Regions from separate parts of the Homo sapiens genome. Here region 1 is linked to region 2. Evidence: fine-mapped expression QTL. Tissue or cell type: ileum. Region 2 holds a variant in brackets; the other region holds the start of a gene. All regions are shown on one strand. Distances are between the middles of the regions.

Region 1 (2,680 bases), 180 kb before region 2:
AAACTGGGGAGCTTCTAGCTTAAATAACTTGCAGAGGTAAAAACGTAAGACAAACTTCACTAAAATTGACATGTTCATCTTCCAAGACAGGCTGCTTCAATTTCGCATTTGGAAGCTTGATAGATTTTCTGCTCCCCAAGCTCTGAAAGGCCTAATTTTAACATAAATGTTAACAGTAAGCCAAAATTTCAGGATATCTGAGCCCAAGGTAGACAAGTCAACAAGCCAGGACTCTGCAGACCCTGGACATCCCACATTCCTGCTCTGGAGAAACACTTCCCAGGGCCCCTTGCACCCTGCATCCTTGGACAACTTCCAGGTAAAAGGACCCCATCCCCTTGGTCTGGCTTATTTTCTGGAAGGAAGAAGCAGGCTCAGGGAGGTGTGCACAGACTAAAGATAGGTTGCTGGGAAAATACTGGGGCTTGAGCCACCGACGGGGGCACGGCGCGGGCACTGAAACGAAGAACTCTAGGGTGCAAGATGGGGGAGGGGCTGAATTTCCCTATCACCATCTCTTCTCCTTAAGATATCAGGATGTATCAGATAGCCCACTGAGGAGGGACTGCATTGAGTGGAAATGGGGAGAGGCCTCTGGTCTGGGATAGGTATGGATCAGGGGCAGGAGTGAGAGGGGGGTGTGGGGGCTGAAAACGTATGAGGACGTTTGGGGAAACATGAGCAAGAATTTTGGATGTGGGCATTTTGGATAGTGCAAGGAGAATGGGGATATGAGGGATCCTAGGAATTTCCGGGCAGTGGAAGCATTTGGGGGCATCCAAGAGAAATGGTGGGTCCGTGGGCATAGCAGGAGATTTGTTGAGTGAATGAGGGGGTTCTGAGGGCTCCAGGAGATGCGATGATGTGTCCAGGGCGGAGAGGGTAGAGGTGGGTTGGGGGAGCCAGAGGCTGCAGGACAGGCTACAGGACTGTCAAGGGGAATTTCTACATGCCCGTAAGGAATGAGGAGGTCTGGGTGCGCGCTGTCCCCGGATCCCCGCCCCCAGCCCCGGTGCTCCGCCGCCTGCCCGCCCGCCCGGGGCTTCCTAGGGAGGGAGTGGAGACTGCGGCGCGGCGCGGCGCGGCGCGGCGCGGCCTCGGTGAAGCCGCCTCGTCCCCGCCCCGCCGCGCCCCGACTCACATCGCCCCGCGGCCCGGGCGGCGCCGGGCCCCGCTCCCGGGTCCCGCTGCAGCAGCCGCCGCCCGCCCGGAGCTAAGGCCTCCCCGCCCCGCCCCGCCCCGCGGCCGCGGGGTCGGAGGTCACCGGCAGCACCAACGAGACGCTGCGGGCTGGCGGACCCGAGCGGGGGCGACCGGCACGCAGCCTAGAAGGTCCCTTTGGAGGACTTTGCAGTCGGGAGCAGTGAGCATGCGCAGACGCCAGAGGGCGCTCCTGGCCAGGGGCTGAGCAAGCCCGGAGGGGACAGGGCGGAGCCTGCGGCGGAGGCGGGGCGCGGAGGCGGGGCTGAGGACACCAAAGTTGGGGGTGGTCCGGGGAGCGGAAAGGGGACGGAGGGTTGGGCGAGAAACGAAGGGAAGGGGAGAGGGTCTGAAGGGACCTGAAAGGAGAAGGGCAAGACGATGGAACCTGGAAGAGGGTTGAGGGGAGGGGAAGGGGCCAGGGGGACCACTGGGGACAAGGGGGAGAGAACTGAAGGGAAACACGCGGAGGAGCGGGGCTGGGAGACCACAGGGAGAGTTTGGGGAGACCTGGGAACTGCGGAGAGACAGGGCTGCGGGCCCGGCGAGGCGTTTCCATTCAGCGAATGGTTGAAAACCCAGCGTAAACGCGGCTCCCGGCGTCTGCTGGATGCCTGCCGGGCGCAGTCCGAGCCAGAGAGCCCTTGCACCTGCATGGCAGAGGCCATGGAGCCCGCACATTTCCACCCTGAGATCCCATAAATGTGGTTTTGTTTTCCTTTTTTTTTTCCTCCCCCCAATCTGCAGCTCCAGGCCCCTCCCTGAGCCGCCCCTCTCCACCAGCCGGGGAGGGGCGGGCGGGGGCCGCTGGGGCGTGGGAGAGGAAGGGCCGCGCTATTAGGGCGGGCGGGGGCGGACGGGGGCGGGCGCTGAAGCCTTGGGGTGGGGACCGGGTGAGGGGCCTGACGGCAGAGTCGGTCCAGAACTGCCCGGACAGCGACGCACAGCGAGGGTGAGACCCCAGCGGAGTCCTGGTCCCCTCCCCTAAAATCCCAGCAGCCAGACCGGGAACCCCAGCGGACTCGGGAAACACCGCGTCCCAGCCCCGGAGGCGGGCCCGCCAAGTTCCAGAAAAACTCTGGGGATCTATCGAGAGGGCAGTTGGCGGGACTGGGCACTCCCCTTCCTTCTCCCTCCCACTGTCCCCAGAAATCTTCCCATCCCTCCACCTCCCCAAGCCCTAAGTCCTCTCGGGCTCTGCCCTTCAGGGCAGCGGGTGTTGGGGATGTCCAGCTCCTGAGCCCTCTTGCACGGAGGCTCTGCACGGAGGCAAGACAAGGGGTTCAGCTCTGTCCCTTATCTGAGGTGGGAGGGGGAAGGGAATTATGGAAGGAATCCAGCTGGCCTGTTAGTAAGGGTGTTCCAGTGCTAGGTGGAGGTGGAGTTTGGCTGCCTTTGGGGAGATTGGAAGGGTGAGGAATAGAGGCCTGATTTCTGAGTGTTGTTTCTGTGTTGGACAATTCTATGCAAACTAGAGCCA
Region 2 (2,680 bases):
CAAGACCAGCCTGGCCAACATGGTGAAACCCTGTCTCTACTAAAAATACAAAAATTAGCCGGGTGTGGTGGTGGGCCCCTGTAATCCTAGCTACTTGGGAAGTTGAGGCAGGAGAATCACTTGAACCCAGGAGGTGGAGGTTGCGGTGAGCCAAGATTGTGCCACTGCACCCCAGCCTGGGCGACAGAGCGAGACTCCTTCTCAAAAAAAATAAAATAAAATAAAATAAATAAATAAACATAAACCAGGAAAGTGCCAAACATGCCAGTTCAGTGGGCAGAACTAGGGCCTTTAGAAAGGGCTGGGAAAGACCATGAGGTGCTGGCTCCGCCTCCATTACCAACCTGGCCAGAACTTTCCTAGTACTAAGCAAGGCTGATCCTCAACGTTCTAAAGGTAGGCCATCATATTCCCACCCTGCTTGCAACTTACACATGTTTATGTATGGCACCATCTTTCTTTAGTCCTCAGATTTTAAACCCTTTACAGCAAAGAAGAATGGATTTCTCTGAGGAATCTGATAGCATGATCTAAATCTGATTGCCCTCTGCAAAACTGAAATTTATTTGAAGTCTAAATATTCTGCCTTAGAAACCTATATACATCTTGGATTCTGGCCCTTAAGATAGCCCTAATTGTTGTAATATAAAACAATGGTGGCCAGGCGCGGTGGCTCAAGCCTGTAATCCCAGCACTTTGGGAGGCTGAGGCGGGCGGATCACGAGGTGGGGAGATCGAGACCATCCTGGCTAACACAGTGAAACCCCGCCTCTACTAAAAATACAAAAAAAAATTAGCCGGGCGTGGTGGCAGGCGCCTGTATTCCCAGCTGCTGGGGAGGCTGAGGCAGGAGAATGGCATGAACCCGGGAGGCGGAACTTGCAGTGAGCCAAGATCGCACCACTGCACTCCAGCCTGGGCAACAGAATGAGACTCCGTCTCAAAACAAACAAACAAACAAACAAAAAACAATGGTTTAAGTTACTAAAGGAAAAGTTAACTCCACACAAACAACTGGCAGAAGGAGTTTTCCTAGGGGTTTTCAAATCCTCCGTTGAAAGGCTGGGCCTATATTACTGTTGCAAAAGCCTCCCAGAGAGCCTCATCTTCACATTGCTTCCAGATAGATCCAAATCAATGGCCCAAGGCCATCTGATTAATCTCTCACAGACACTCCTTTCGTCTTCAGTCCAAGGACCTGCTTATCAGGTTAAATTTAAAAGACAACCAGCCTGGTTTTCAAAATTGCCTTCAAGAAGAGGCCCCAGCAGCCCTAACCAATTTTATCTCAGCCCTAGCACTCCAGCCCACCTCTGGGCCTTATCACCCACCGCTGGCATCCTGCTTCTTTCTCCAAATCCAGCCTCTTCCCTTAAGGCCTAGCTCCTGGCCCATCTGTTCCATGAAGCTCGCAGGGTGTGGAATTGAAAGATCACAGAAATTTAGGGCCAGAAGGATCAATG[T/A]CGCTTAAGGGCACGCATCCACTTAATGGTTGTTGTAAAGTATTCTCCTTGTTTCCTGTGAATAAATCCTGTTTTCTCCCAAAAAAATGGAAATTCCTGAGGGTAGGCACCACATCTTTGTAGTTCCAAAGGTTAACCTGCTGGAAGAGGTACCCTGCATGAAGATGTGTGCTTTGATTCCTGCCTCTCTGCTCAGGCAATTCCCCTGTTTGGATAGTCTTTCCCAACCTGTTGTCAGCCATTCACAGTTCCAGATTCCTCTCATTGTAGGTTATTTGCTTTTTCATTTCTATTTATTTTTGTTTTTTAAAATTTTTTGCAGAGATGGGGTCTATGTTGTCCAAGCTGGTCTCGAACTCCTGGCCTCAAGCAATCCTCCTACCTCGGCTTCCCAAAGTGCTGGGATTACAGGTATGAGCCACCAAACTTTACCTTACTTTATCTTTATCTTTTTTTTTTTTTTTTGAGACAGAATCTCTCTGTCACCCAGACAGACAGACCAGTGATGCAATCTCAGCTCACTGCAACCTCCACCTCCTGGGTTCAAGTGATTCCCTGCCTCAGCCTCCTGAGTAGCTGGGACTACAGTTGCAAGCCACCATGCCCAGCTAATTTCTGTATTTTTAGTAGAGACGGGTTTTCACCATGTTGGCCAGGCTGGTCTTGAACTCCTGACTCCAAGTGATTCGCCCACCTTGGCCTCCCGAAGTGCTGGGATTACAGGTGTGAGCCACCATGCCTGGCCTACTTTTTCATTTTTAAATTGTCATTAGGGTTGTTACAGCATGGAGCAAAAAATATATATTTACATTTTTAGCAAAAAGCCATACTTCCCCCAAACTCGAAAACCCCTGCTAGGTGAGTCATTCTATTCTGTACAGTAGAATTTGTATTATTCATTCACTTGGTCCACAGAACTTTATTGAGATCCTATCAAACACAAGATATACCTGGGGCCACAAACAATACAAAGACAAATAAAACAGTTCTTTTCTCTTAAAGAGAATATAGTCTCCTGGGGGAATTTAGATGTGCTTTGCTTTCCTTCTTACTAATTTACCTTTACTTGATTATTTAATTGACTCAAGTATGTGGGTTTGGGGCTTTGACTCATCATGTGGCCAGAAAGTTCCCTGAAATCAGGAATTGAATCTTCTAATTTTTTTGGTATCTAGGTAGGGTAAGAATATGTTCCAGTTAATGTCAGTCTTATTGGC

Evidence for each region. PIP is the estimated chance that this variant, and not a neighbour inherited with it, causes the effect.
Region 1: it holds the start of FRS3, and the variant in region 2 is fine-mapped to the expression of FRS3 in ileum (GTEx, PIP above 0.99).

What each region holds. Positions count from the first base shown.
Region 1 is chr6:41,778,675-41,781,354 of GRCh38, forward strand. It overlaps FRS3 (fibroblast growth factor receptor substrate 3), which reads right to left and starts at 1,226. Exons shown (of 7, transcript NM_006653.5): 1 at 1,142-1,226. PRICKLE4 (prickle planar cell polarity protein 4) reads left to right here and starts at 2,108. Exons shown (of 8, transcript NM_013397.6): 1 at 2,108-2,152; 2 at 2,676-2,680. RefSeq lists silencers at 952-1,101, 1,132-1,541, 1,822-1,891.
Region 2 is chr6:41,956,089-41,958,768 of GRCh38, forward strand. It overlaps a transcript of CCND3 not described here. Among named protein-coding and RNA genes, the nearest start is that of CCND3, 16 kb to the left of the region's middle. The variant T/A (reference allele first, on the strand shown) is at 1,464.